Linked DNA regions of Homo sapiens. The protein of the gene in region 4 interacts with the protein of the main gene of each other region in a pairwise test. Each region holds a gene or a part of one and is shown on either strand. Other genes may lie near its edges.

Evidence for each region.
Region 1: the proteins of ERN1 (region 4) and POLA2 interact in binary tests that used the Homo sapiens proteins (3 or more experiments, as listed by UniProt).
Region 2: the proteins of ERN1 (region 4) and WBP1L interact in binary tests that used the Homo sapiens proteins (3 or more experiments, as listed by UniProt).
Region 3: the proteins of ERN1 (region 4) and TAOK3 interact in binary tests that used the Homo sapiens proteins (3 or more experiments, as listed by UniProt).
Region 5: the proteins of ERN1 (region 4) and ASIC4 interact in binary tests that used the Homo sapiens proteins (3 or more experiments, as listed by UniProt).
Region 6: the proteins of ERN1 (region 4) and TMTC1 interact in binary tests that used the Homo sapiens proteins (3 or more experiments, as listed by UniProt).
Region 7: the proteins of ERN1 (region 4) and DNAJA3 interact in binary tests that used the Homo sapiens proteins (3 or more experiments, as listed by UniProt).

Annotation. Positions count from the first base shown.
Region 1 is NC_000011.10:65,275,262-65,279,519, reverse strand, and holds part of POLA2 (DNA polymerase alpha subunit B), read right to left. Parts: intron 3,629-4,258; coding exon 3,522-3,628; intron 791-3,521; coding exon 597-790; intron 1-596. UniProt on the Homo sapiens protein: Accessory subunit of the DNA polymerase alpha complex (also known as the alpha DNA polymerase-primase complex) which plays an essential role in the initiation of DNA synthesis.
Region 2 is NC_000010.11:102,802,717-102,806,974, forward strand, and holds part of WBP1L (WW domain binding protein 1-like isoform 1 precursor), read left to right. Parts: intron 1-4,258.
Region 3 is NC_000012.12:118,194,700-118,198,957, forward strand, and holds part of TAOK3 (serine/threonine-protein kinase TAO3), read right to left. Parts: intron 1-4,258. UniProt on the Homo sapiens protein: Serine/threonine-protein kinase that acts as a regulator of the p38/MAPK14 stress-activated MAPK cascade and of the MAPK8/JNK cascade.
Region 4 is NC_000017.11:64,119,684-64,123,941, forward strand, and holds part of ERN1 (serine/threonine-protein kinase/endoribonuclease IRE1 precursor), read right to left. Parts: intron 1-4,258. UniProt on the Homo sapiens protein: Serine/threonine-protein kinase and endoribonuclease that acts as a key sensor for the endoplasmic reticulum unfolded protein response (UPR).
Region 5 is NC_000002.12:219,531,209-219,535,466, reverse strand, and holds part of ASIC4 (acid-sensing ion channel 4), read right to left. Parts: intron 3,710-4,258; coding exon 3,565-3,709; intron 3,467-3,564; coding exon 3,339-3,466; coding exon of another isoform or gene 3,321-3,338; exon of another isoform or gene 3,153-3,320; coding exon 2,990-3,152; exon of another isoform or gene 2,585-2,989; coding exon 2,528-2,584; exon of another isoform or gene 2,205-2,527; coding exon of another isoform or gene 1,888-2,204; exon of another isoform or gene 297-1,887; coding exon 143-296; intron 1-142. UniProt on the Homo sapiens protein: Does not exhibit measurable stand-alone pH-gated sodium channel activity but may form pH-gated heterotrimeric sodium channels. Its activity could also depend on alternative gating mechanisms.
Region 6 is NC_000012.12:29,776,685-29,780,942, forward strand, and holds part of TMTC1 (protein O-mannosyl-transferase TMTC1), read right to left. Parts: intron 1-4,258. UniProt on the Homo sapiens protein: Transfers mannosyl residues to the hydroxyl group of serine or threonine residues.
Region 7 is NC_000016.10:4,445,961-4,450,218, forward strand, and holds part of DNAJA3 (dnaJ homolog subfamily A member 3, mitochondrial), read left to right. Parts: intron 1-925; coding exon 926-1,054; intron 1,055-2,772; coding exon 2,773-2,888; intron 2,889-4,258. UniProt on the Homo sapiens protein: Modulates apoptotic signal transduction or effector structures within the mitochondrial matrix. Affect cytochrome C release from the mitochondria and caspase 3 activation, but not caspase 8 activation.

The DNA.
Region 1 (4,258 bases), on a different chromosome or scaffold from region 4:
AAAAAAGTATTATGTTTAAGACATTTCACTTGCCAAGAAGAGAAAATACAGCACATTGTAAAATATTAAAGTCAGTCATTTTACAGAAGCAGGAAGGGTGCCTGGACATCTGGCCAGTTTAAACCTTCTAAAACCTTTGCCAATTTTCCGATATTTGGTTGCTGAATCTGGCCTTCCATCTGGCCACAGGAGACCCCATAGCACAATTCCAGGGAATCAGCATGAACCCCACCCCATCTCCAAGTCTGCCCTTTACTCAAGTCCTCACTGAGGTTTTAGGCAAGTCAAGGCCAACCTGAAGAAGGCTTCTAACGAAGGAACCATGAATATCTTTAAGTTGAATTCCTTTACATCGTTCAAGTTTTTGCTGCTGGGAATGGTTATGTGCGTTTTAGCAAAGTGAAGTGACTTGGGGCAATCACTGATAGTATTGCCCGTGTCCCTCCATTACTAGGGCTTCCATGAGGACATCTACCAACTCATACATTGAAAGGCAACCTTGGAACTTGTTCTACCAGCCTAGCTGAAGCTTTGTTACTCTACACCCTTCTAGGTGGTTTTATATCCACCAGAATTTCAAAGGGAAAAACAATCACCTTCTCGAATGTCTGGGAGCTTCTGAAACATGGATTTGTAGCTCCCAGTTAGTGCCTCTGGACATCCCAAGACCTTCAGGCTGATGTTTCCAGCTCCTCCTCTCCCAGACCAAGATACTCCCTGTGCTAAGCCGAAGGAGGTAACCACTTCTCCTCGGTTACTTCGTGAGTTGTATTTCTGGGAGGGAGTAGCACTAATTGGAAGCAAAACAGGTTAATATTACTGTGTTCATATCTAAAGGGAGAGAAGAATAAAATGAGGTTACCTTTGGAAATGGGGACTGGAGAAAAGGAAGGTGGCCTCATAGTTTATAAATTGAATCAGTTTAATGGGGTTGGACATACCCAGACCTTTAAGGAATTTCAGGAATGAAGGGCTGAGGAATACCAGGCTGAGGAATACCAAACATTTTTAGAGAAGTTTAGAGACAGAAACGTATTTTAAAAAGTTGTCGTTCTCTTGGCATTAAAACTAAGCAAGGCAAAAAGATCCCCAGATTCTGAATTGATTAAAAGGCAAACTTTAAGTCCCATTTTTTTCTTCTCATGAATTTTTAGCATTTATTGGAACATCATCTGAGCCTGCAACTGTGGATAAGCTAAAACTTGCTGAGCATATATAAAAACTCACAATATGGTTCAAGGTAGAAACAACAATAAAATGAAATTCAAATTAATCAATTTTCCCCAGTGTCTATGGAGGTGGGTAAGTAATGAATTAACAGTCTGGTGATGTGCAAACATTCCCATTTTTCTAGGCTCAACTGCCAAGTTCTCACATTTCCACTCCCTGACTGGTAAATTATACCTCTAAGAACACATGGATATTGCTGATCTGCTTAGATGACAGTGAGGTCTTCTAATCCTCTGGTTGTAAACACGCCGTACAGAGAGGTCTATTTAAAACAGGCTTTGTTTAATGCACTGAAACTCTGCGGGAACCAGTTTTATGTGGGGCACCATCGCAATTAATGCCATCATTCTTTCTTTTCACAGCCTACAGAAAATGAGCTCAATTAATTATCTCAATCTCCAGTGCCACCTCTACGTGAATAGTTTAGAAGTTACTTTCATACATTACAAAACCAGTTTCTGCTGTCAGCTTTATTAGTGTGCATTAAAAAATGACTAGGCAGCATTTTGCCAGCTTCTCCAAGCTCTTCCCTGGGAAGCTCCATGAGCCATCCATTACAGCAGGCCCTTTAATGCAGCAAGATGCTCACATGAGGACAGTTGTAAACAGATCTACAGGTTTCAGAGCATTGTATTGACATTTGGAGAATATAACTCCTGCAATGGTGCTGGCACGTCTATAAGAACCATCCCTACATACCAGGTTGCAAAGATGCTCTTAAGTCTAGAAAGCTTTCTTCCAAAAAGCCTGAGAACTCCCCAAAGCAGCAGTAGACTACCCTAAAGTAAAACTGTCCTTCAAAATCCAATTACTGCCAGGCATGCTGGCTCATGCCTGTAATCCCAGTACTTTGGGAGGCTAAGGCAGGCAGATTGCTTGAGGCCAGGAGTTCGAGACCAGCTTGAGCAACATGGTAAAACCCCATCTCTACAAAAATTATAAAAATTAGCTGGGCTTGGTAGCATACACCTGTAGTCCCAGCTACTCAGGAGGCTGAGGTAGGAGGATCACCTGAGCCTGGAAGGCCAAGGCTACAGTGAGCTATAGTTGTGCCACTGCACTCCAGCCTGGGCAACAGAGTAAAAGCCTATCTTAAAAAAAAAAAAAAAAGAAAGAAAAGAAAAAAAAAATCCAATGACCACTCACCTTGAATGACTGCAGAGCTTCTATCACCACCTTTCTAAAGTGATAGAGCTGAAAAGGCCGAGAGCAGTGGCACATGCTTGACATCCTACACTTTGGGAGGCCAAGGCGGGTGGATCACCTGAGGTCAGGAGTGCAAGATCAGCCTGGCCAACAGGCGAAACCTCGTCTCTACTAAAAATACAAAAATTAGCCAGGCATGGTGGCGAGCGCCTGTAGACCCAGCTACTCGGGAAGCTGAGGCAGGAGAATCGCTTGAACCGGGAGGCAGAGGCTTCAGTAAGCCAAGATGGTGCCACTGCACTCCAGCCTGGGTGACAGAGTGAGAGTCCATCTCAAAAAAAAAAAAAAAAAAAGTGATAGAGTTGAACAATCTTAAGCTCTGGTTCATCTAGAAGTGATCCAAAGTAGAGGTAATGACTCCTGGCAGTTGGTGTTTCCCTGAAGGGTTAATACTACTGCTCCGGAGCCTCATCTTGATGTGGAAACTCCTAAAAACCCATCTACTCAGCAGAGCACTTGCCTATGGAATTCTCTAATATGAGACGTGTCATTTATGGATTTCAAAAAATTACATATGATCTTTGTGGATTTATGTGCAATGGTGGCAGAGGGACAAAATACCAATTAAGTCAGGGCAGAGTCACAGTGACAAGAAAACTCTCAGAAACTAGTTCTAACCTGACTTGGAAACAATAAACAGGTTATGAAACATTATGAACAAAGATATGTGCTTTTCTTTAAAAAAAAAAACTTTAGATGAAAAGAAAGAAAAAGAAACCCAACAAAACACAAACAGAAGCAGGTGGAAACCTACTTGCCTCTACTGACAAGACCTGTTAAGACTCTTAGACTTCTGAATAGACAGGTTGTTTTCAATACAAGATATCAGTTCCCGATCTAGGAAATGAGCCCTAGAAAAGTGGGTGGAAAGTGAGTTTCCTTAATTACCGTAAGAAACAGTAATTTTCCACAAAGAAAAGGAGAGCAAGGAAGGCAGAGAGCAATAGGCTTTCAAGCCAATTCACTGCAGAGGTACATGCCCACCTATAGTTAATTAATAACTCTGCTGTTAGCCTTCCTCAGATAGCCAGAGAAAGGGGAGGGGAGGCCAGCTTTATGGCACTTGAATGAATTATGATCCATACCTTGGAGAGAAACTTGACGGTGAGAGTAGCTGATGGGGGCTACGAGTTGACACACTCCTTTTTGTTAGGGGGGTTTCTGGGGTAGAGATAGCTCGCTTCTGAGAACCCTAGGGAAAAAAAAGGAAAACAAAATCTCAGTCCTACTAGACCCAATACTAATTAAGTGTATAGTACCTTGGAAGAAAAGGGAGAACATGTCCAAACGAAGGCACAAAATAGGACTGGGTGGGTTCTCTTCTTAAGGCCCCATCATCCAAGCATAATCTCAAAAAGAAATCTTCAACAACTGTAACCAACATTCAGGACACTGTCCCTATTTTGAAGGCAATTACGAGAAAGCAAACATTTTCCAAAAAGGACCACCAGGCTGGTAATGTGTCCTGTCAAATCCTTCATATGTTTACTTTCTGTCCCTACCTCTATGTTTTCAAACAGATATGAGTTTTACAATGCATAGTTTTGATCTATGTGTACACATTTTCCTGAGAAGGAATGGGACATTACTACTTACTTTGGCAAAGTCTACCATACATTTTCAAAGGAAATGACTCCAGGCAGATAACAAGGTTGAGCTCATACTTGAAGAGTTAGCAAACATCTGATGGTCACTCCTTTTTTTTTTTTTTTTTTTTGACTCATCAACAAGAATCCAAAGATAAGCCCAGAACGGAGGCTGAAACCTACAGTCCAGAGACCTATTGCTCCCTAAAGTCTAGGATAATCGACTGTAATAGAGA
Region 2 (4,258 bases), on a different chromosome or scaffold from region 4:
AAATTCTGACCTCAAGTGATCCACCTGCCTCAGCCTCCCAAAGTGCTGGGATTACAGGCATGAGCCACCACACTGGGCCCTGTGTTTCTTTATGGAATACTTTTTGGGGGTTAAAAGGGAAATTGAAAGGAAATTTTAAAGGAAACCCTGCCCATCTATGGTTAAGCCTGTAACAACAACAATAAACACACTAAGAACTTACCATACATCAGGCATAGTTCTGCGTATACTACATATATTAACTCATTTAGTCCTCACAGTGACCAGATAAGTTAGAGACCTTTATTCTCCCCGTTTTACAGATGAGGGAAGTAAAACCAAAATGACCAAGGTCACAAAGCTAGAATATGTGTTTTTAAGCTGGGCTTTGAACCCAGGCCATCTGCCTTTTCTCTTCCACGTCTGCAGTCATGCTTGTAGGAAAGTTGGCTGGGCTTTCAGAAGAAGTTGCGAGTCTCTGACGTCTTCATTTCCCAAATTCAGGCCTTTTCCACTGTGGCAGTGGCAGGAGCTCTTGCTGAGAGCAAGGAAGGGCCAGGGGAGCCAGTCACCCACCGTCCTGCAGGATGGGAGGAGAGCTCACTTACAGTATGCTTGAGCCTCCTAATGGGGAATTTCCTGCCAGTTGAAGAGTGGTGTTTTCCCAAGTTTGTAGTGAACTCTTGGGGTTTGTAGTGTAGTCATGGGGCACATGACTCAGTTCCTACACTGGACTGTGATTGTTTTTAAAAACATGTTTTCCATTTTGCTTAGCATGACAAATGCACCCCACAGTGAACTCACAATTTTCAAAACTTGTCTTTGAGGAATGTAGTCTCTTGGTAGGTGTGTGTTTGTTGGGGAAAGGAGGGTCATATTTCTGTCTCTGGTGTGTCTTTTGTTGGGTTTTCCTTTTTTTTTTTTTTGGAGGCAGGGTCTTGCTCTGTCTGTTGCCCAGGCTGGAGTGCAGTGGCGCTATCTTGGCTCACTGCAAGCTCCGCCTCCCAGGTTCACGCCATTCTCCTGCCTCAGCCTCCCGAGTGGCTGGGACTATAGGTGCCTGCCACTACGCCCAGCTAATTTTTTGTATTTTTAGTGGAGACGAGGTTTCACTGTGTTAGCTAGGATGGTCTCCTCGTGATTCGCCCGCCTTGTCCTCCCAAAGTGCTGGGATTCTAGCCTTGAGCCACCGCGCCCAGCCAGGTTTTCCTTTTTTTTAAAGTTTTCTTCTTTGTGCTTACTTCAGCAGCACCTATACTAAAATTGGAATGATACTGAGATTAGTGTGGCCCCGGCCAAGGATAGCAGGCAAATTTGTGAAGCACTCCATAAAAAAAAGTAAAAAATGTAAAAATGAACTTTCTTCCTTGGTTTTGAAATCTAGCTAAAAGATTAAAATTTTTCCTAAGTTGGCCAGGTGTGGTGACTCACACCTGTAATCCCAGCACTTTGGGAGGCTGAGGTGGGTGGATCACTTGAGGTCAGGAGTTCGAGACCAGCCTGGCCAACATGGTGAAATGCCATCTCCACTAAAAATACAAAATTAGCTGGGTGTGGTGGTGCATGCCTGTAGTTCCAGCTACTTGGGAGGCTGAGGCAGGAGATTCGTTTGAACCCGAGAGGCGGAGGTTGCAGTGAGCCGAGATCACACCACTCCACTCCAGCCTGGGTGACAGAGCAAGACCCTGTCTCAAAAAAAAAAAAAAAAAAGCCCTTTTTTTTTTAAAAAAAAAATTATACTTCTGGTTCAGTGAATCTAGCCTTTTTCTGGATCAAGGATTCCTTTAAAAATCTGATGAACACTTTAAATTCTCTCCCCAAGAAAAACTTGTAATCACACTGCAGTAGTCAGGATAGGCTAAGTTGTGCCACAGGAACAAGCAAGTCCAAAATCCTAGTGACCTAAAAACAGCAGGTTTATTCCTCACTCACACTGTGTGTCCATCGAAGGTTGGATGAGAGTTTTGTTTCCACTTCACCATCCTCTGGGACCCAGACTGATGTGAAATCACCATCTGGGATGTTGCCAGTTGCCAAAACAGAAGGAAGACTAATGGAGGGTCTCATATTAGCAAGACACATTTTGGCCTCTAAGTGACATATATCACATCCAATCTCAATTCATTAGTTAGACTTAGTCCCAAAGCCTCACCCAGTCACAAGGGGGTCAGGAAGTTCAAGCCTACCCACATGCCTAGAAGGAGAAGAAGCAGAAATACTTGGCAAACATGAAAACCAATGCATGAGATTTTCTTTAAAACGGGGAAAACAAAACAAAACAAAACAAAACAAAAACAACCATGTTGGCCAGGTGTGGTGGCTCATACCTGTAATCCTAGCACTTTGGGAGCCAAGGTGGGAGGATTACTTGAAGCCAGGAGTTTGAGAGCAGCCTGGGCAACAAAGTGAGACCACCCCCCTATATCTACAAAAAATTTAAAAATTAGCCAGGTGTGGTGTGCACCTGTAGTCCTAGCTACTAGAGAGGCTAAAGTGGGCTCCTTGAGCCCAGGAGTTGGAGGCTGTAGTGAGTTCTGGTCTCTACTGTACTCCAGCCTGGGTGACAGAGTAATACCTGTCTCAAAAATTTATTTTAATTAAATTTTTTAAAAAATTGTAAAAGCTGTGAAATAGATCATATATATTGCAGTATAAAAGTTAGAAGTTGGTTTACCTTTAGGTAGAGAACTATTGAAAAAATGACTGGTGGCCAGGTAAAAAACTAGTAGAGTTAGATGCTGGCTATCTTTTTTTTTTTTAGAGATGGGATCTCGCTGTGTTACCCAGGCTGACCTCACAAGAAGCAATCCTCTCATCTCAGCCTCCCAAGTAGCTAGGATTTTAGTTGTGAGCCACTGCGCCAAGCAGATGCTGATTACCTAACGGGAGAATGTACTTTTAAAATTTTAAAGTTTGGCCATCTCTGGTATTTCACACCTGTAATCCCAGCACTTTGGGAGGCTGAGGCAGGGGGATTGCTTGAGACCAGAGTTTGTTTGAGACCAGCCTGGGCAACCTTGTGAGACCTCATCTCAACAACAACAACAACAAAATTAGTGGGGTGTGGTGGTGCATGCCCGTAGTCCCAGCTACTCAGGAGGCCAGAGCGGGAGGATCACCTGAGCCCAGGAGATCAAGGCTGCAGTGAGCTGCGTTCACACCACTGCACTCTACCCTGGGTGACAGTGAGACCTTGTCTCTTAAAAATAAGTTAAAAAAAATTGGCCTGGCACGGTGGCTCACACCTGTAATCCCAGCACTTTGGGAGGCTGAGGCGGGCGGATCACTTGAGCTCAGGATTTTGAGACCAGCCTGGCCAACATGGTGAAACCCTGTCTCTACTAAAAATACAAAAAAAAAAAAACCAATTAGATGGGTGTAGTGGCACGCACCTGTAGTTGCAGCTGCTGAGGAGGCTGAGGCACAAGAATCACGTGAGCCTGGGAGGCGGAGGTTGCAGTGAGCTGAGTTCCCTTGCCACTCCAGCCTAAGCGACAGAATGAGACCCTGTCTCAAAAAATAAATAAATAACAATAAAGTAAAAAAAAAAAAAGTTATAAAGTAACACAGAAGTATAATGGACTGTGAGATTACACTGAGAAAGTAAGAGAAGTATAGGTAATACAAAATGGTTGTCAGCCCAGAATAATTTAGACTTGACTCCGAAATACACATGCAGCCAGGTTCTTAAGCAGAGTGTCCACCCCAACAACCCTAGGAGATGTTATCAAACTGCATCTGTAGCCAGTTTCACCTCCATAACTCCTTTCCAGCCTCTCCACCCTTCTGCAAGGGTTCCTCTGCCAGTGTCTACTCTTAAGTCAGCCAGAATTCATAAAGAAAGAAACATAAGTTAAGCAAGTTTGACTAGTGAACCGGGAAAGACCAAAAAGGAGACTGCTAAGTTCACTTTATGGTCTCTGGTTAGGAATGGATTTTCCTGTCTGCTGATGGGTAACAGGGAAAAAAATCCTCTGTCTGTTCTCTTGCTGCAAGGCTGCAGCATGAAGCTTTGGTTGAACAGCGATACCCACTGAAAGCAATTAAGTGCCGTGGAATGGTACTGCCAGCCTGCCGGGGCTGGGGGGCATGTCACTGTCCTGCCCCACTTGGTGGAGGGCAGCTTTGTGAGGAGATTCAATGGGGGCATTCCAGGGGGACAGAGAAAGAGCTGTCGCCAGATGCCACACCCTAAATGCCAAGGGATCTTTTGGAAAATTGTGTATATACAAATAAGGGGGAAAAACATCAAGGATTTATTCATTTTTACAAGTCTGTT
Region 3 (4,258 bases), on a different chromosome or scaffold from region 4:
CTAACAGGAAGGGTCAAATAAAGCTTTAGGAGTCAGGGTAGAATGGCTTTTTTTCCCCCTCCACCAGACGGAGTCTTTGCTCTGTCACCCAGGTTGAAGTGCACTGGCACCATCTTGGCTCACTGCAACCTCTGTCCTCCCCAGGTTTAAGCAATTCTCCTGCCTTAGCCTCCAGAGTAGCTGAGATTACAGGCGCGTGCCACCACGCCCAGCTAATTTTTGTATTTTTAGTAGAGACAGATTTTCACCATATTGGCCAGGCTCGTCTCGAACTCCTGAACTCTTGATCCACCCGCCTTGGCCTCCCAAAGTGCTGAGATTAAAGGTGTGAGCCACCGTGCCTGGCCAGTAGAATGACTTTTTTAAACAATAGTTTCTGGAACACTTATTCTGTTTTATAGAATGAAGTGTTGTCCCATTAAAAAAAAGAAAAAAATGTTCTCTAAATAATCCCTAGAAAGGGACCCTTATGACTGGCGTTCAATAAGCATACCTAAAATAACACTGATTCAAGAACAATGCTTTTAATATATTAAAGTCTTATGATCTATACTAATAGAAGGCAGCAACAGGCAAAGGGAATTAATTTTATACTTTAGTAAAATAAAAATACACCTTTTGATTAACAAATTTAAAAGACAGACTTTGCTGCTTAGGATATTATTAAAATCTATTTGCTATGGCTCTATACACAATGATTTTAAGGAGTAGGATGAAGGCTCAGAAGCAGGCTAGATGACAAGGAAACAATCTGGATTAAAAATTTGTACCGGAGTCACTTGTGAATAATCAAGAATTGAGGTGTGGAATTGTGTCCTTGGCCATCTTCAATTTAGTTCACAGAACATTTGTTGAGCGCTTACTATGTAACAGACACTGTGCTACGTGGTAGGTGAAAAAAAAGGTTCCTGAAGAACTACCAGTCTAGAGATGTGGTGATGTTCTTGTTATTGAAAAAAGTAGTGTGGCAACACTAGCCAGGGGGAAAAATAAGTACCTAAAATTTATTTTGTCAGAATATGCCTTTAGCCTTATCAAATCATTCTTGCTCAAAAAGAAGACTGGATTGGGCCAGTCGCAGTGCCTCATGCCTGTAATCCCAGCACTTTGGGAGGCCAAAGAGGGTGGATCACGAGGTCAGGAGATCGAGACCATCCCGGCTAACACGGTGAAACCCTGTCTCTACTAAAAATACAAAAAATTAGCCAGGTGTGGTGGCAGGCGCCTGTAGTCCCAGCTACTCAGGAGGCTGATGCAGGAGAATGGCGTGAACGCAGGAGGCGGAGCTTGCAGTGAACTGAGATCGCGCCACTGCACTCCAGCCTGGGCGACAGCACGAGACTCCATCTCAAAATAAATAAATAAATAAATAAATAAATAAATAAATAAATAAATAAAAGGAAGTTTGGATTAGGATCCCCTCAGGGCCTGGGAAAGACCAGAGTAGAGGCAAGGACTGGAGAGTAAGTAACCTGGAATTCTGATGTCAAAGGAAAATTTTCAGTGTCCCACTTTGCATTTTGGGGGCTTGATCTGTGGTAGAACTGTCCTGCTAAAATCAGGGCATCTTTATTCTGGAAGCAGAGCAGTTAAGTGCAAGTCATGCTCTCACTAGCTACTCATGGATTTCATTTTATTTATTTTTTTAAGGTCCTTCTTTGAAAAAGCAAATTTATTTCCTATCTAAAATGGTAATCTGTTTCAGATCTGTTTTGACTACCAGTCAAATTAATTTGACTAATTTAAGATATGTCTGCTTGTGAGCCGAGATTGCACCACTGCACTCCAGCCTGGGCAACACAGTGAGACTCTGTCTCCAAAAATTAAAAAAAGAAAAGAAAAGATATATCTGCTTGATTATAACAATCAAGGGACAAAAGATTCCTTCTCCCATATTCATATATTTTGGTATTTATTAAGCACGTTCTTATTGTGTTGGGTACTCATTTAACTTTCATTTAACTATTATTTAACTTTCTCAAACTGTAAAGATAGCTAAGATTATTTAATCCTTTTGATCCATTATGTTCAATGAACCAGTAGAGTATGATATTTAATATTTGGTAATTAATTTATTCCCTGCCTTCTTTTTGGTTTTGTTGGTCTATTCATTCATTCCACAGTTATTTACTGAGCATCTATGCTGCGCCAGGCACTATTCTAGGTATTGGATTTGTTATTTGTCCAAAGTAAAATAAAACTAACAGAGGCAGATAGAACTATAAATTAGTTTCCTCATTCCTAAGTTTAATATACAAAATTTTCTGTTGAGAGTTAAAAATCCTATTTATGTTCCCAAGTGAAAAAGTGTTAGGAATTTGAGTAAACCATCCAATACAAACTTCATGAATAATTTTTATTTCTATTGTTTTTAAAGATAACATATTTTAAAGCTCAGGTACAAGAACTAAATGGATTTCATGAAAAGATACCATATCTTAAGTTTTCATATATATTCTATTTTTTGAGCTCACTTACATTTTAAAGGTAACTCATCCAAAGTTTTATTTGCAAATGTGTTTTGATTTTCTTCCATCATATTTCCTCTATATATTTCATGATAAAATAGGAATATATAACTTAAATTCTTCCTGACCTATATATTTTTTGTGGATCAAATGCAATTATCTTCTACTTCAGAATATAAATTTTATCTGTTCTACTTAAGTCATCACACATCAGGGAGAGAAAAGTATTGAAACACTCATATTATCACAAGGTAGGTCTATGACAGCATGCAAAAATAAAATTAAAAATCCCATTAGTTCTAGACCAGGGTTTTCTTTCTTGTTGATTATGCCAGTAGTGTCTTTCTTCTAATTCTGGTTGCCTATCTGAGAAGTCCTGGAGCAAAAAGATCCAACTGAATTCCTCTCTTTTGCCCCCTCTACTCATAGAGCCCCAGGGGTAATAGAAAGGAAAGTGCCAGACCTGTCAGCACTCATGATCACTCCCTCCAAAAAGACAGCCCAGCAAAACCTTCTTTTTTTTTTTTTTTTTTTTTTTGAGACGGAGTCTCACTGTGTTGCCCAAGCTGGAGTGCAGTGGCGCAATCCTGGCTCACTGCAAGCTCCGCCTCCCAGGTTCACGCCATTCTCCTGCCTCAGCCTCCCGAGTAGCTGGGACTACAGGTGCCTACCACCACACCCGGCTAATTTTTTGTATTTTTAGTAGAGACGGGGTTTCACCATGTTAGCCGGGATGGTCTCGATCTCCTGACCTCGTGATCCGCCCACCTCGGCCATTGCGCCTGGCCTCAAAACCTTCTTTTTTACTCTTCAAATACATGATCACTTGCCCATGTTGAAAGGACACCAGCTGGCAATGCTGATCTCTTGGTAGATTTCTGCATCTGTCTGACATCTTTGCTTTCCTCAAATTGCTTCCATGTCTTCCTGATAATCTGGGTCCTTTGCTGTCTCTCTGGTCCTGAGGCACTGTCCACATAGCACACCAGCCATAGCTTCTATGGCCTTCCCCTTTTCCTTGAACATACAAAGCTCTCTCTGTCTCAGTGCTCTTGTACTTGTTGCTTTCTGACTCATCCCCATCTCTTACCCCAGCTGGCTAGCTTCTATTTGTTTTTGAAATTTCTGCTTAAATGTCACCTCATCAGGTAGGCTTTTCTTACTCCCTGCTAGAGTAAGTCCTCCTTTTACCCGAGGCAAGTTTCTTTCTTTCTTCTTCTTCTTTTTTTTTTTTTTTTTTTTTGAGTCTCACTCTGTTGCCCAGGCTGGAGTGCAATGGCGCGATCTCGGCTCACTACAACCTCTGCCTCCTGGGTTCAAGCAATTCTCCTGCCTCAGCCTCTCGAGTAGCTGGGATTACAGGCATATGTCACCAGGCCCGGCTATTTTTTGTATTTTTAGTAAAGACGGGGTTTCGCCATGTTGGCCAGGCTGGTCTCAAACTCCTGACCTCAAGTGATCCACCCGCCTAGGCCTCCCAAAGGGCTGGGATTACAGATGTGAGCCACCACGCCCAGCCAAGAAACATACTTTTGAAAGAGCATACTTCTAAAAGGGCACAACCAACAGGTACACTCAGGAAGACTTGAAGGTCTACAGTATTAAGATTATTGGTTTAGAGAAGGACTTATCAAATTCTTCAACTTATTTATTGATGATGATGGACATCAGAGTAATGAGAGAGGGAGATGAAGAAATAGGCACAGATGTAGCCTGTGTAGTCCTTTGTTACTTTTTGACTGTAAGAAAACTGTCACATGCCAGGTTTAGTACCACACTGCAGTTGCAAA
Region 4 (4,258 bases):
GCCTAGAACTAGAAATAAAGTTAGAACTTTATTTCTAGTTCTAACACTAACTAGCGGACTCTATCAATCCTAACCTCTCTGTAAAATGAGCCAAATGCTGTGTCTAGTCTGGTCCCGTGCTCTGTGACGTGACTGGGAATTTGGAGATGCATTTGTTCTTTCCAGGATTAAGGTACAAAAATTACTTGAAGGCCTCATCCTGGCTGCACATCAGAGTCACTTGGGCCTTAAAACATTTTTTGCTGGTTTATTTGGTAGAGATGGGGTCTTTCATTGTTGCCCAGTCTGGTCTCAAACTCCTGACTTCAAGTGATCCTCTTGTCTTGGCCTCCCAAAGTGCTGGGATTACAGGTGTAAGCCACTGAGCCTGGCCTTAAACATTTTTTTTTTAAAAAAGAAAAGATGCCGGCCCCCACTCCCAGAGATTCCAATTTCATTCACATAGGATGGGGCCCCAGCACAGCGTTTTTAAAAAGCTCCCCAGGTGACTGAGTCATGGCTGGGAAGCACCGCCTCAAGTAACACATTCCTAGCCACAGTTGTGGCCCCCTGTACAGGTGATTCTCTCACTCCTAGTGGCCCCTCAGGAGTCATGGGCCATTTGCTTTAAGAGAAGAGAGATCTGATTTACCTTGGTCAACAAACTTCTCTGACTCAACTGGAGATCAATGACAATGTCAGGTTCTAGGGATGTGACAGCACTGTTTGTTCAGAGAATGTACAGAAAAATTCGGTTTCCATGACAGACACTCCTGCAGCCCAGACAAACAATTATTCCTTCATCTGACAGAGAGGGGGGAAATAATCCACTGGAGAATGGGATGGTTTTGAATTATAATTATAAATTAGTCTACTAACAAAGGAAGTCATGTTTAATACATGAGAGGACAACTCTGGGCCAAGGTTCATTTTTTTAACAGTGAAACATCATGCTGAGTGAAAAATGAAACTGACATGAAATAATCACAAACTGTTTACCTCATGGAGTTTGGCAATGGAAAAATTAATCTCATTACTGATAAGAAGAGCCCACCAAAAGAACACTACACACTATGGGTCACGTCCACCCAAGCAAATATCCTGAAAGCTCCTCTAGTTCTGTAGAAAGACACACAACTGGTGCAATCCCATTAAAGAATATAAAATATAGCTGAAGCAATACCTCCCACCCCCATCCACAACCCACTTGCTTGATGATATAATACAGCCCCTTTATTGGTCTTAATGAGTCTCAAAGAAGAATTCAATAAATATTTGCTGAGTGCCCCCTACAGTGGGTATAACCAGCATGCCACGTTAAATGCCACAGAGGATGCAACCATCAGCAAGCCAGGGTCCCTGCCTTCTCGGATGAACCAGCAAGGGAAGTGAGACACACTCCCAGGGGCACCTTCCTTCCCCCCTTGCTCCTTCCTTCCCTCATTAGTCTCCTCTGAGAGCTACCTAAGCTAACTTGAATCCCTCCATTGTGGTTTAAGAGCCAGAGTCACAGCCACTGTCTCTCTCCTGTCATCACAGACCTGCTCCCTGGTGCCAGAACTGCTTGGCAGGTGGCGCCTCTGCAAAGGCAAACACCCAGAACCAGCACGGTAATGCAAGAGTTCTATCTTTTCAGGACTTCTTGGTGAAGGCTGTGACTGAGCTAGAGAAGAGCGGCTTGGGTTAAAGGCCTCTAAGGAAAGAACTTTCAGTTTTGTTCTTTCAGACATATGACTAGGCGAGATGTTACTGAAAACATGCACCTGCTTGGATATTATTAGACTCCAAGCAAAGAAATTAGCTTAAACTGTGAATTAGGCTTAGCAGGCAATTTTTTGTTGTTGTTGTTGAGACGGAGTCTCTGTTGCCCAGGCTGGAGTGCAATGGCAGGATCTCAGCTCACTGCAACCTCCGCCTCCCAGGTTCAAGCGATTCTTCTGCCTCAGCCTCATGAGTAGCTGGGATTACAGGTGCCCGCCACCATGCCTGGCTAATTTTTGTATTTTTGTAGAGATGGGGTTTCACCATGTTGGCCAGGCTGGTCTTGAACTCCTGACCTTATGATCCGCCCGCCTCAGCTTCCTGAAGTGCTGGAATTACAGGCGTGAGCCACTGTGCCCAGCCGAGCAGGCTTTTAATCCCTACTCTCTCCATGATTGCTGGATTTGACTCTACAGTTGAAAATGGCCAATTTCCTTGATGGAGACTCTCAGGTGAAGGCAGCATTCCCATCTCAAAATGGCATCTTCGCACAACTGCAACAAAGGGTAGAAGGCCATGATTCTTAACGGAGGAAAAATAACATTATCTGGGTATTTTCCTGAAGCTTACAAGAAAGCCTACTGGCCTAGACCTTCTCTAGATCCTTCTCTCATGGCCACATAGTTTGGTCAGCTCCTCAGGGTATGACTGAGGGTAGCCAGACTGGTTTGTCCCAACATACGCACCAGAACATAAGCACTGCAGGGGCTTCTCTTCAAAGGGAGGTAGGAGGATCAAGTTTAAGGTTTGGTTCTGCCACTCACACATGACCCTGGACAGGTTACCAGCCCTTGCTGGTTGCCTTTTCCCATCTGTCTGCTCTGGAAGACAGAGCAGGGTAGTAATTTTTCTCAGCTTGGGAGAGGAGGGTAATGCCTGAGAGAGGGTGCCCCAAACACCACCCTCCTAGGTTCTGATGTGCTCATACTGTTACTGAGGGATGTGCGCCATATTTCTTATGTGCAGCTGGAAGGGGAAAAAATTGAGACTCATTGGACTACATGGCCGAGAGCCCATCAAGCAGTCTAATGCACTCTGATTCCAGTTATCTTGGGAGGCTACACATCTATTCATACATGCTTCTAGGGCTCAAAATATTTCTGGAATTCTTTGGAAATTCCCTTCAAAGAATATACTTTTGAATCCCCTAAATGGTAAAAATCCTGTTCACTTTAGGATGGATTTCATTTTAATAAATAGCTGAAAACCAAATCCAAGTGTCCTCAATAAATTGTGTGATCAAACTGGGTAATAACAATTTTGATCAAAAGTGTAGTGTGAATCATGTAAAAGTCCTATTAAGCAAAGACTGGAAGGAATTGGAGAATGTTTTAACTTGTATAAGGATAACTGGCTTAAGAGTAAATATTTGTTTTCAAAGGTTCGTTTTTGTTTTAAAGTTGAATTATTAAATGGGTTAGATAAGTTGTTAAATTTAACTGGAAATTTTTTTAAGACTGATTTCAATAACCCGTAAATTCACGCCAAAGGGTGATTATTTTGAAAGGGACATTTTTTTTGGAAGAATAAATTTGCAGGAAAAGCAAAACAAAACAAAAAATAAAACACCACAGATATTACATTTTATTTTTAATTTTTTGTTCCCTTTTTTTTTCCAGGTAGATAATCCCAGCAAAAGGTAGTACTTTATTATCAAGTGGTACTTAAATATTCCTAGGAAAAACAGCCACATGTTTTAAGAACTGCAGCCTCCAAAAGGGACAATCAATGTATCAACTCTGATTTATGAAGTCTTAAGGCAAAAGTTTTAAATGGCCTCACAACCGACCATACAAAGAATCTTATCTGTAGGAGGCGGGCCACCCTCAAAACCAGAGAATTATCCCGAGGTATTTCAGGGTGCTCATGGGTGCCACATCTCCTAGAAAGTTGATCTGAAACCACTGCAAACTAAAGGACCCCACAAATGAGTCATTTAACAAATCCAAATAAAACATTTTCTCAATAGCTTTTAGGTACAAAGGGTATCATCCAGAGACTGCCTTGGTTTATTTACATCTTCAAAATATAAACAAAATGTAAACATTCTATTTTCATCCAACTTTTAAAGTCTACGCTCCTAAAAGAAAGTGGCCACTGATAAAAGAAAATAGCATACTTTAAACCGCCTATCATAAAAACAATTTAAGGTTAGTTTTGTTTTTAAAACACTCAACATTGCTTAGGGCTGGGGGAGAGGGCTGTAAAATACTACATACAATCAGCAAATTTCAATTCTAGGAATCTATCTCCAGGAAATAACTAAGCACTTAAAACTCATTCAAGAGTTTAGCAACAAGAAAGTTCATTACATTGTTATAATTTTTATAATGAAAATAAAAACATATCTGTGTAGTGAAAAAATAAAAAAAAATAAAAACAGCCTCAATATCTAAATGATTGAGTGGTCAAATTATGGTACATCCATTCCATTCAGAGAAATACTACGCAGCCAATTAAGAATAATGTTGCAGAATTAAGCTGATTGACATAGATCTATATGTTCCAGTGTGGGGAA
Region 5 (4,258 bases), on a different chromosome or scaffold from region 4:
ACATACACACCCACACCCACATACACACAAACACATACACACATACACTCACACACACGTACACACAGAGTCACACAGCCACCCCCCACACACACGTACACACAGAGTCACACAGCCACCCCCCACACACACACACACATACCGTATGTAGGTCTCGTTGCGGTTGTACTTCCTCGCCAGGTACCGGGCTGAGCCCCTGTTGGGGATCCTGACCATGGAGATCTCTTTCCCATAGCGTGTCAGGTTGCAGGGGGTGGGGCAGAAGCACGGGCCCTCAGGGCCCCCACCCAGGGAGTCTGCAACACAGAGGTAGCAGCTACAGTGGGAGTTGGAGAAGGGTGGTCCAGTGGCCCACCAGCTGCAGAGAGGAGGCCCAGGGGCCGTCCTGAGGCAGGCACACCCACACTGAGGGCCTTTACTGGCCAGCCCCAGTGCTTCCTAGAGGGGACTGGCTGCAGGTCCCCGCCTGAACCAGCTTCAGACTGCTCCAGAGAGCAGATATAAGCAGAACCCCCCAGCACCCTCCCAACCCCCTGGGACTGGGGGGGGGTCCTCGTGGCCCAGAGGGAGAACACAGCCCATCCACCAGAGCTAATCAACTATGTGAGGCCTCAGACACACAAGGAGGTGTGGAGAGGATGCTGGGATGCATGCATGGATGGATGGATGGATGGATGGATGGATGGATGGATGGATGGATGGCAGATGGCCAGATCGACGGATGGGCGAACAGAAGAACAAATAGACCGACAAGCTTCCCAGGATCAATGTGCTGGGCTTTCTCTGCCTGCCCCTTCAGATCCACTCTCCACTCTTCAACCTTGCTCTGCACCCTATGAGGCTGATCTCCCCCAAATGCATCAACTAAACTCCCTTGTCCTCTGGCTTTGGGTTCAGTTTGGCCAACAGGAGGCCCCAGCAGAAACAGAAGGTGAGAGGGAAGAGATGCCAGGGTATTTCTCCCGCCTGGCTTTCTCACTGCCAGGCCGTAGGTGGCAGAGGCTGTGCTCCTCCAGCCATGCTGCTGTCAGTCAGCCCTCTCGGACAGCCACAGGTCTCTCTCTCCTCCTGCAGGCCTGGTGGGAATGAAGGCTCCCCATGTTGCTAGCTCTGTGGTCTACCGCTGTGCCTTGCAGGCACCTTACTCCTGATCACATATCTGTTCCTTCACTAAACATCTCCAATCACCCCTGTGACAGATGCAGGTGGTGTGGGGGACAGAGAAGGGCTGGATGTGTGTGGCTGCCCAGTGTCTCAAACCCAGCCCCAAGGCCCCAGGTGTCTGGATTACTGCAGCCAGCTTCGCCAGTCCCTGGCTTTGAGTCTCCTCCCCTCCTATCTCATTGGACTCACCTGGCATTCCTGCCTTGCCACAGGCCTTTGTTGGCTTCCTAGAGCCTCCCTCCTCTTTTTTTTTTTTTTTTTTTTTTTTTTTGAGACAGGGTAACTCTGTAGCTCAGACTAGAGTGCAATGGTGTGATCCCAGCTCACCGCAGCCTCAACCTCCCAGGCTCAAGCCTATCCTCTTGCCTCAGCCTCCCGAATAGGTGGGACTATAGATGTGCACCACCACACCCAGTTCACTTTTTTATTTTTTGCAGAGACAGGGTCTCACCATGTTGCCCAGGCTGGTCTTGAACTACTGGGCTCAAGTGATCCACAGACCCTGGCCTCCCAAAGTGCTGGGTCTACACTTGTGAGCCACCGTGCCTGGCCTCCCTCCTCTACTCTTTCTACTCCCTCCCCTGTTCTCTGCCCTGCAGCCACACAGACCTTTCAGTGCCCCGGACACAGCATGCTCTTTCTGGCCACAGGTCTTCAGTGTATGTCCCCCTTTGCACCTGACTCTTATACACCCATCAAGCCTCAGCTAATGTGTCCCTTCCTCTAGGAATCCTCCCTACCTTCCCAGGCTAGGGCTGCACACCCCTCCTTGGGGCCTTGCAGCACACCCGAGGCTCCCCTCTCCAGGAGTTGACGGGCTGTGTGGGAATGGCTGTCCACAGCCCTGCCGGGGTGTAAGCTCTCCAAGGGCAGGGCTGTCGCCCCCACTCTCACCTCCAGTACCCAGCACAGGCTGTAAAGGTCTGGAGAATGCGCGAATCGATGAATGGATGGATAGATGGATGAACTGCAGATCAGGCAAGATCTGTGGACAGATGGGGTTTGCCTTACCCACACCGATAGCCAGCAATGCATTTTTCCTGAGACCAAGAGAGAAGTCATTTCACTTTCTCAAAGTGGGTGAGCTCATTGGCTGAACCAAGATGAGAAGCCCAGACCTTCACTCCCAGTCCTGGCTTCTCTGCAACCCCCCACCCTGCTGCCTCCACTTACCCAAGTGTCTGTACCTGCAGAGGTCCGCAGACCTCTCCCCAACCCCACTGAAGTATGGGCTAAGGCTCAACCCCCAGGAAGAACCCTCCAGGAAGAGATTGGGAGGGGAGGATCCAAGACAGTGAGGAGAAGAGTGGACAGAGACATGAAGAGGCTGATGGAGAGGTAGGAAAGGGTAGGCAGCACGGACCCAGTGTGTGGTCTGCACACTCGATGTAGATATTTGGTGGGCAGATGGTCTCATTGCCTGAAAGGAGAGAAGATTATTCCTGGAATCTACGATCACTTCCCCTGTCCCCCACACGCCCAAATGTAAGCACATACATGCATGCACACACATATGCACACATTTGCATAAATGTGCTTGAACACCACACACACAACCCCCACAAATACGCAACCACGGATATAAATGAGCATGCACGTACACAAATACATATTAACATGCACACAGGCATCTGCATGCCGGCATTCCCACATGCATATGTGAAACCATGTTTAAAAATCCCAAACACTCACACTCACACGGGTACAGACACATACACATGTTGTATACATGCACCTGCCTGTGCACATGAGCAGTGCCTTGCCCCGGGAGGCTCTGGAGCCTAGCAGGGTGGCATGGAGGGCTGGCTGGGGGTGGGGTGCCCACCTGGCATGTGCACCATCCGGCAGTGGCAGCGCTGAAGCACGGCCTCCTTTTCACAGCGCAGCCGGCAGGCAGACACACTGTAGGCCGAGTAGCCCTGAAGCTCAGGCTCCCTGAGCTCACTCTCTGCGCGGCAGTTGCCCCAGGGCTGGGGCAGGTAGGTCAGCTGCAGAGGTGGGGCATGATGAGGTCATGCTCAGGAATCCCACCCAGTCCTCCAGTGCCCACAGCCCCAGCAAAGTCAACACAGCTGGCAGGCTCTGAGCTTCTAGAGGGCAGGTTTGCTCCACATCCCCTCTGAGCCCAAAGGCGAGCCCTGTGCCCAATCCAGGGCCTAGCAGGAGATGCTCACCCGCTGTTCCTGGCAGGACACAAAGGTCTGGAAGCCTGGGGACACCCCGAACCCCAGCTGGTGGATGTAGGGCGGCTCCTCCTGGCTGTGGATCTGCACCCGAATACCTGCCTCAAACGACGTCTCATCTGCACAGCAGAGATGGGGACCTTTGGAAACCCATCCCAGGCAGAGGGCCCAGGCCCCAGTCCCCAAGGTGGCCCTTGTCCCTTTCCGGCCTGCGTACTTGTCTCCCTCCAGATGGGCAGGTACTCCTCCTGCTGGATGTCCAGCATGATCTCCAGGCCACTGCCCATGCCCCCTGCCCGGCTGGGCAGCGAGCTCCGCGGGTCCGCGTTGAAGGTGTAACACTTCCCATAGCGAGTATAGACCTGGGAGGTGGGGTGAGAGAGCAGGAGGGGAGATGAAAGGAGTGGCCAAGGCAACTCCGAAGTTCCCTGCTCCCTGCTGAGGGCCACCAGATCTGCTTGGACACTCCAGTCCCGTATCCTAGCAAGCAATGTACAGCCCAGCCTCTCCAATCAGCGCCAACTTTTCTACTGATGGCCTCCCTTAGATGATTAGAAAGCATCTCCAACCCAACAGCACATCAACACCTTCCCAAACCCTGCCTTCCCCCCACCGTTTTCCTCCACCCTAGTAAACCACCCCACTATATCCACCCAGTTTCTCAAGTCGGAATTTCTGAAATCTCCCCTTCCATCACTCCTGCATCCAAGCCAACAGCTAGTCCTGGGACACTTCTTTCTCTTCTTTTTTTTTTGAGATATGGTCTTGCTCTGTTGCCCAGGCTGGTGTGCAGTGGCACGATCTCGGCTCACAGCAGCCTCAACCTTCCAGACTCAAGCCATCCTCCTGCTTCAGCCTGACAAGCAGCTGGGATTACAAGCATATGCCACCAAGCCCAGCTAATTTTTTTT
Region 6 (4,258 bases), on a different chromosome or scaffold from region 4:
GGGAGGTAAAACTCAACAAAGCAGGGTAAGGAAATAAGGGTAAAAAAACACAGAGGAGTGTTTGCTACTTTGATCACCTGGCCACCAGGGAAGGCCTCCGGGATGAAGTGACATTTAGGCAGAAACCAAAGGTGGTGAGCACATAAGCCCTGCACAGATCTGGGGAAAAGCATTCAGGAGGAACCACCAATACATGCAAGGCCTTTGGTAGCAGTGGGTTTGGCCTGTGCAAAGAACAAGGGCTCTGGAATGCTGGTGCAGAGAATGAGGTGGAGATTGGTAGACTAGGGATCAGAGAGGTAGCCAGGGGTCAGATCAAACAGGACTTCATAGAAAAGAAACAGTATCTTATTATTTGGGAAAGAAACACTGCCATTGTGTGGGCATGATCAGGCATTCCTTACCCCCCTCTCTCTCTTTTTATTTTTTTTAACAGAGTCTCGCTCTGTTGCCAGGCTGGAGTGCGGTGGTGCAATCTCGGCTCACTGAAACCTCTGCCTCCCAGGTTCGAGCAATTCTCCTGCCTCAGCCTCCCGAGCAGCTGGGACTACAGGTGCACACCACCATGCCCAGCTAATTTTTGTATTTTTAGTAGAGATGGGGTTTCACCATGTTGGCCAGGATGGGTTTGATCTCTTGACTTAGTGATCCGCCCGCCTCAGTCTCCCAAAGTGCTGGAATTACAGGGCATGAGCCACCGTGCCCGACCTCCTTACCCCTCTCTTTAAGTGAGATGATGACATACTCAAAGTTAGGAAAAATATGAATGTAGCTCCAAAGAAAGACAGAAAAGACATTGGTTGGTAATAATAGACTGCTTCGGAAGGTGATTTCCAAGCCTTGATTCAGGGACTCACCTATAAAAACCCTCATGAGTCCAAAAATATATTCCTCTCACTTTCTGTCCCTCCTACACTACCAGACTGTAGTCTATAAAGTATATCCTACTAGATTATAATCACAACCTCCACCTCTTGGAGCTTCCAAGATAACCTTAGGGTGGCATAAAATTTTCAAAGGCAGTTTTTCATTTTTCTTTATAAAATTTTTCTTGCCTCCAATCACATTTTCCCTTGGTTATTTCTGTCACTGAACATCCTAGACAATCTAGTCAAACATCCTAGAGAATCTTCACTTGTGTCCTATGATAGACTTAGAAAACAAACTTATCAGCCTTGTGGCAACAGGCTGTGTCAAAATGAAATCCCACAGAAGTTGAATGAAAAGGAATAGAAACAAAAGAAACATATCACCGTTTCTTTAAGGTTGTGGGCATGGAGGTTAGCTAGTGCTTATTTTCATGGTTGGCATACTATTTGTAACTAAAAGATGCAAACTACTGCAAAAAACCTTCAAGATCAAACATTAAAATGCTGTAAATTCCTACAGCTGCACATATTAAGATAGTCTATTTTTTGGCTCTGACATTTTAAACCACCCACTTTCACTCTTATGGTTTATATTACCATCAGAAGCTCTTAATAAAATAAAGCATTATAGCAAATATAATCTAATAGGCTAAACACACAGAGAAAGAATCAGGATTTTAAAGTCCTTTCATTTGCTTAGTTTCCCCATCTTTAACATTAAAAAATCATTGGTTCTTGCTTGTTGAAGCAGACTTCCACCTGCTTACTGAATGGAATGGCACTGCGAACAATTCAGCAGTATCTTCTTCCCAAGAGAAGGGTTGGGATAAAATTAAAAAGCTAAGTTTATTTTAAACCATTCTGGACCATTTTTCAAGGGAGGGGTTATGGACATCATAGAGTTTGGTTCTGTGTCAATTCACCCTCTACAGAGTAGCTTAATGCATTTCTCTTGATTTCAGGCTTACAAACAGGTCATGGCCAGGGAAGGAAAAAGAAGCAAAAAAAAAATGTTATTGCTGCAGAGTCACAGATGTTTTGATTCTGTACCACTATGGTCCAAAAATATTCTTGCATGCCCTTGGGCATGATCTTATGAAAAGACTGAATCTGAGATTTGACTGGAAACAGAAATTCATTGTAATTCTAAATTCACTTCAAGGAACACAAAGAGATGGTCATTTGTATCAGTTAGGGTTAGACTAGAAAACCAGAGCCACCATGAGTGATTCAGAAGAAGGGATGTACTATGGGGATCTGACCTTTTACTATTGCTGGGGCTGGTTAAATAGCCTATGTAAGTGTGATGCTTCTGTGTCTATTATCCAAGTTGAAAGCCAGCAGGGCAGCAGGGCCATTCTGGAAGAGAGGGTGAATGGACTTGAAGTAGGGGGAAGCAAAGGCAAAATGGAACCCACAAGGATGAGCTAAAATACATGTCTGTTTTCCACTGCCTTTAAGGCTCCAACTTTAACAATGCAAGAGGCTTGCAAAAAGACTGGCACTCTTCCCTGCAGAGCTGCATACACACCTGCACCATGATTCCAAGTAGCTGAAAGACGAGATCTGGAGAGCACTGGAGGAGCTGAGGGCCTGGGTGCTGCTGCAAACCAACAGCATGTTCACCAACATTTCTGTGACAAACTGCAAGAGGCCTGGCAGCAACAAAACCTATGCCAACATTCTGAATGTGATCTTAGCCACTTCACTTTCACCTTCCAAATCTTGCAGAAATTTTTCTTATGGTCAGCCCTAACCCAGATCATCTTGCAAAGGCAATTCCAAGAAACATAGTCCCAACTTAGCTAAAGTGACATAGTGCAAAGCCACCACATCTTGGTAAGCTGCTTTCATATTCCACTGTCCCATCCCCTCAAAACTGGTAGAAGTAGATGGTCTGCAACCCATTTCCTCATTTCAAATTTTAGTTCATTTCTTACTTGAAAAAATACATAATTAGTATCTTTACTACCTAAGCAAGCACTTTTATTATTTATTAGTATACAAGCAACCACCTTTATAGCAAAAAGTATTATGCATCTATAAATTACATTTATTCTTAAGGAAATTTCTAGCTCTCAGTATGCGTAAGATACATTCAATGAATCAAAAATCAACTTACATTTTAATAAAAAATATGTTTGGAGTATTGCACTGAGAAAGGTCCTGTGAGGAGGACAAAAAGACAAGCTACAGAGTGGGAGAAAATATTTACCAATCACATACTTGACAAAGTACATGTATCTAGAATATATAAAGAACTTCAATACTCAACATTTAAAAAAAACACTTAAAAATGGACAAAAGACACAAAGGCACATTTACCAAACTCTTTGGTTTAATATCAGATGTTCAATAGCTTCACCCATTAGGGAATGGTAAATTAATGAGGTACATATATAGGTGTGATATCACTACATACCTATCAAAATGGCTACAGTAAAAAACAGCAACAATACAAAGTGCTGGCAGAAATGCACAGAAACTGGATTACTCAGACACTGCGGCTAGGAACATCTGGAAAACAGTATGGCAGCTTCATATAAAGCATATGAACATGCAGCCACCATATGGCCCAGCAATTGGACTCCTGGGCATTTAGAACAGAGAAATAAAAATCTATGTTTACATAAAAACCTGTAAGTGAATTTTTATAGCAGCTTTATCCCAGCCAAAAGTTGGAAACAACCTAGATGTCCCCAACAGGTGAATGGTTATACAAACTGTGGTATATCCATACAATGGAATACAACTCAGCAATAAAAAGGAACAAACTATGGATACATGCAACAGCCTGAATGAAGATCCAGAGACATGCTGAGTGCAAGAAGCCAATCTCAACAGGTTACATACTATGTGATTCCATTTATACAACAGTATTAAAATGGCAAAATGATAATGGAGAACAGATTCATGGTTGTTATGGATTTGGGTGAGGGGATTATGGATTAGGCAGTTGTTATAGATTAGGTGTCCATGATTGCAATAAAGAAGTACTGAGGATCCTTGGGATGGAATTGTTCCGTATCTTGACTGTGGAGGTACTCTCTGAAATCTACACATATGATAAAGCTGCATAAAACTAAATACACACTTAGTAAAATAAAAAAAATAGAAGTACATATAAAATGGGTGAAATCTGACTAAATGCTGTAGATTGCATCAATATCAATTTCCTGGTTGTAATATTATACCATAATAATACAGGATGTTACCATTGGGGGAAATGGATAGAGTAGAAGGAATCTCTCTATTATTACTTAAAACTGCATGGGAATGCACAATTACATTAAAAAAGTTTTTAAAACGGGTTTGAAATCTCAAAGTTTTTGCTCAAACAAGCATAATTTAAGATACAGTTAAAATGGTTTGCACATATTTAAAGGGCC
Region 7 (4,258 bases), on a different chromosome or scaffold from region 4:
GCCCAGTCTGGAGTGCAGTGGCATGATCTCAGCTCACTGCAACCTCCACCTCCCAGGTTCAAGCGATTCTCTTGCCTCAGCCTCCTGAGTAGCTGGGACTACAGGCATGCGCCACTACACCCAGGTAATTTTTGTATTTTTAGTAGAGATGGGGTTTCACCATGTTGGCAGGCTGGTCTCGAATTCCTGACCTCAGGTGATCCACCCACCTTAGCCTTCCAAAGTGCTGGGATTACAAGCGTGAGCCACCACGGCTGGCCTATACTTTCTAATAAAGTAAGATTTTTTTTTTTTTTTTTTTGAGGTGGAGTCTCGCTCTGTTGCTCAGGCTGGAGTGCAGTGGTGTGATCTCTGTTCAGTGCAAACTTCATCTCCCAGGTTCAAGTGGATCTTCTGCCTCAGCCTCCTGAGTAGCTGGGATTACAGGGGCCCGCCACCACACCTGGTTAATTTTTGTATTTTTAGTAGAGACAAGGTTTCACCATGTTGGTCAGTCTGGTCTCAAACTCCTGACCTCAGGTGATCCACTCACCTTGGCCTCCCAAAGTGCTGGGATTACAGGTGTGTGCCACTGTGCCTGGCTAAAGTAAGATTAAAAAAAAAAAATCAAAAGCCAGTTTTACATTTTTGTTTCCCTTCACGATTGAATGGCTTGATCTGAGACTGAGGAAATCCAGGCACGCTTCCATTTCGGCATTTCAAGTGTGTAGAACATTGCAGTGTTGAAATATGTAGAACATGTCATTCCTGGGCCTGGGATGGTGTCTCCTTGTTGGAAGGACAGTTCTTTCCCTCAACACTGCACTTTATGTATGGAAGGGGTGTGTAGTTTGTCAGGTCTGAGCTTGGGCCTGGCCAGGCATGCAGCTGGTGTTTAGTCTGCAGTGGACTTATCTTCACATGCATCTGTCATGTTTGGCCTTAGGTGCAGAAAAGCCCTGTGTTCCGGAGGGACGGCGCAGACATCCACTCCGACCTCTTTATTTCTATAGCTCAGGCTCTTCTTGGGGGTACAGCCAGAGCCCAGGGCCTGTACGAGACGATCAACGTGACGGTAAGAGGGTGTGAGAACACCTTTGTCACCCCTGTACTTTATTGCTCTTTTTCTGAAATGGAAAAGAACTGACCAGTGGCCTGGAACCCATGAGTGACCAGCATGTGGGGGGGCACTCACAGGGGAGGACATGAGGAATTTTAGGCTGCTCCTTGAGTGTGGACCACAAGCCACAGGCCTTGAGTCTATAATCGCATGGGAAGCAGTTCCTGGCTGGCATCACTCCCACACTGGTTAGCGGGGCCTGGGAACTGGGCGCATTCAGGACACAGAAGGGTTCACCCTGGGTTGTGCTCTCTGCACTTGCTTCTGTCCAGTGTCTGGCTCCAAGAGCAGAAGACTCGGGCGGTGCATATCCCTTTTGCCACAGTGATGGCTGCCTGTGTGCTGCCAGCACCTGTCCCCCACCTCTCTCTTGACCTGCCCCTCCAGCTCTTCCCACCTCCAGGCCACATCATTCTCTGTATTCGCCTCAGAACCTTCTCCAGCTTCTTTGTGGGGAACCTTGGGGTAACCTCCATGAAGGAGGTGGGCATTTTGGGCCAAGGCTTTCTCCTCCATCTGGGGGCTATTCCCTGGCTTCTCCAGGGTCCTGTGGTTCCAAGGGCCAGGGAGCGACCTCAGCCACGCACCCTGTATTGGCTTTTCCTGCTTTGCTCCCTCACTCCTGCTTCCTGGGCTCACTTGCCCAAACTCTTGCCCCCTCATCCTAGTCACAGGCTCTGCTCTGGGCAGACCCAACTTAGCTCATTTCCATGTGCTTGTGGGCGGGCTTGGCCCAGAAACCCAAGTGGTGGTTCTTTTTTTTTTTTTGAGATGGAGTCTCGCTTTGTCGTCAGGTGCACGCCACCACACCTGGCTAATTTTTTGTATTTTAGTAGAGACAGGGTTTCACCGTATTTCCCAGGCTGGTCTTCAACTCCTGATCTCAGGCAGTTCACCCGCCTCGGCCTCCCAAAGTGCTGGGATTAAAAGGCGTGAGCCACTGCGCCCAGCCCAGTGGCAGTTCTTTTTTTTTTTTTTTTTTTTTTTTGAGACAGAGTCTTGCTCTGTCGCCAGGCTGGAGTGCAGTAGCGCGATCTTGGCTCGTGGCAATCTCCGCCTCCCAGGTTCAAGCGATTCCCACCTCAGCCTCCTGAGTACCTGGGCCTACAAGCACGCGCCACCATGCCTGGCTAATTTTTTGTATTTTAGTAGCGATGGGGTTTCACCATGTTGGCCAGGAAGGTCTCAATCACCTGACCTCGTGATCTGCCTGCCTCAGCCCCCCAAAGTGCTGGGATTACAGGCATGAGCCACTGCGCCCGGCCTTTTTTTTTACCCACCCCCTCCACCACCGCTCTGCCGAGACAGAGTCTTGCTCTGTCAGCCAGAGCTGGAGTGCAATGGCACAATCTTGGCTCACTGCAACCTCCGCCTCCCGGGTTCAAGCAATTCTCCTACCTCAGCCTCCTGAGTAGCTGAGATTACAGGTGCACGTTACCATGCCCTGCTGATTTTTGTATTTTTAGTAGAGACGGGGTTTCATCATGTTGGCCAGGCAGGTCTTGAACTCCTGACCTCGTGATCAGCCTGCCTCGACCTCCCAAAGTGATGGGAGCGTGAGCCAGTGGTAGTTCTTTTCAAGGAATTCCTATCAAGATTGTCTTCATGTAGTGAAAACTTTTTATTTGAGCAACTGGGGACCAGGGGAAACCACAGATTTTCTTTCTTTATAGATCCCCCCTGGGACTCAGACAGACCAGAAGATTCGGATGGGTGGGAAAGGCATCCCCCGGATTAACAGCTACGGCTACGGAGACCACTACATCCACATCAAGATACGAGTTCCAAAGTAAGTGCCCCCTAGGCTGTGGCCAAGCCCGCCTGGTCCTGCGGTGGCACTGCCCTTGGAGCTCTGTGGCTTGGGCAGGTTACTGCTCCCTGTAAGTCAGGTGGTTCCTGCCCGAGTTATCTGTCTGTAAAGTGGACATAGTAGAATGGTCAACTTCTTTTTTTTTGAGATGGAGTCTCGCTGTGTCCCCCAGGCTGGAGTGCAGTGGCGCCATCTCGGCTCACTGCAACCTCCGCTTCCCAGGTTCAAGCGATTCTCCTGCCTCAGCCTCCCGAGTAGCTGGGATTACAGGTGCCTGCCACCATGCCCGGCTAATTTTTTGTATTTTTAGTAGAGATGGGGTTTCACCGTGTTAGCCAGAGTGGCCTCAATCTCCTGACCTAGTGATCCACCCACCTTGGCCTCCCAAAGTGTTGGGATTACAGGCGTGAGCCACCATGCCCGGCCAGAATGGTCGACTTCTTGGAGTTGTTGGGAGAATTAAATGAACAACACATAGGAATTGCTTTGCTGCTGCTGCTATTGTTGATTTTCTTCTTTTTTTTTTGAGAAGGAATCTGTCACTGTGTTGCCCAGGCTGGAATGTGGTGGTGCCATTTCAGCTCACTGCAACCTCCTCCTCCCCAGTTCAAATGATTCTCCTGCCTCAGCCTCCCGAGTAGCTGGGACTACAGGCGCTTACCACCACGCCCAGCTAATTTTTGTATTTTTAGTAGAGACGGAGTTTCACTGGCCAGGCTAATCTCGAACTCCTGACCTCAGGTGATCTGCCCACCTTGACTTCCCAAAGTGGTGGGATTACAGGTGTGAGCCAGCACGCCTGGCCCGTTGCTTTTCTTGTTGATGTTACTAGCACTGTTAGGAGCTGGAGAGGTGGCCTGGGCAGAGTGCTGTGGGTACCTAGGGCGGGACATGCCTGACTCCCCTCGGGAGCACTCATGCTTTTTGTTAATTAGATAATTTCTTTTTTTTTTTTTGAGATGGTGTCTAGCTCTGTCTCTAGGTGGAGTTCAGTGGTGCAATCTCCACCTCCCAGATTTAAGCAATTCTCCTGCCTCAGCCTCCCAAGTAGCTGGGACTATAGGCATGTGCCGCCACGCCCAGCTAATTTTTGTATTTTCAGTAGAGACGGGGTTTCACCTTGTTGGCCAGGATGGTCTCTATCTCCTGACCTTGTGATCCGCCCACCTTGGCCTCCCAAAATGCTGGGATTACAGGCATGAGCCACTGCGCCTGGCCTAATTAGATAATTTCTTACTTGCTTCACATACACACTGGTAAAATCTGTTTCCCCTCCTGTAAACTGTATTTAGCATAGCCACAGTGACACTTGTTTAAATGACTTAGTGTAGGGTGTTTTAGGAGCTTTT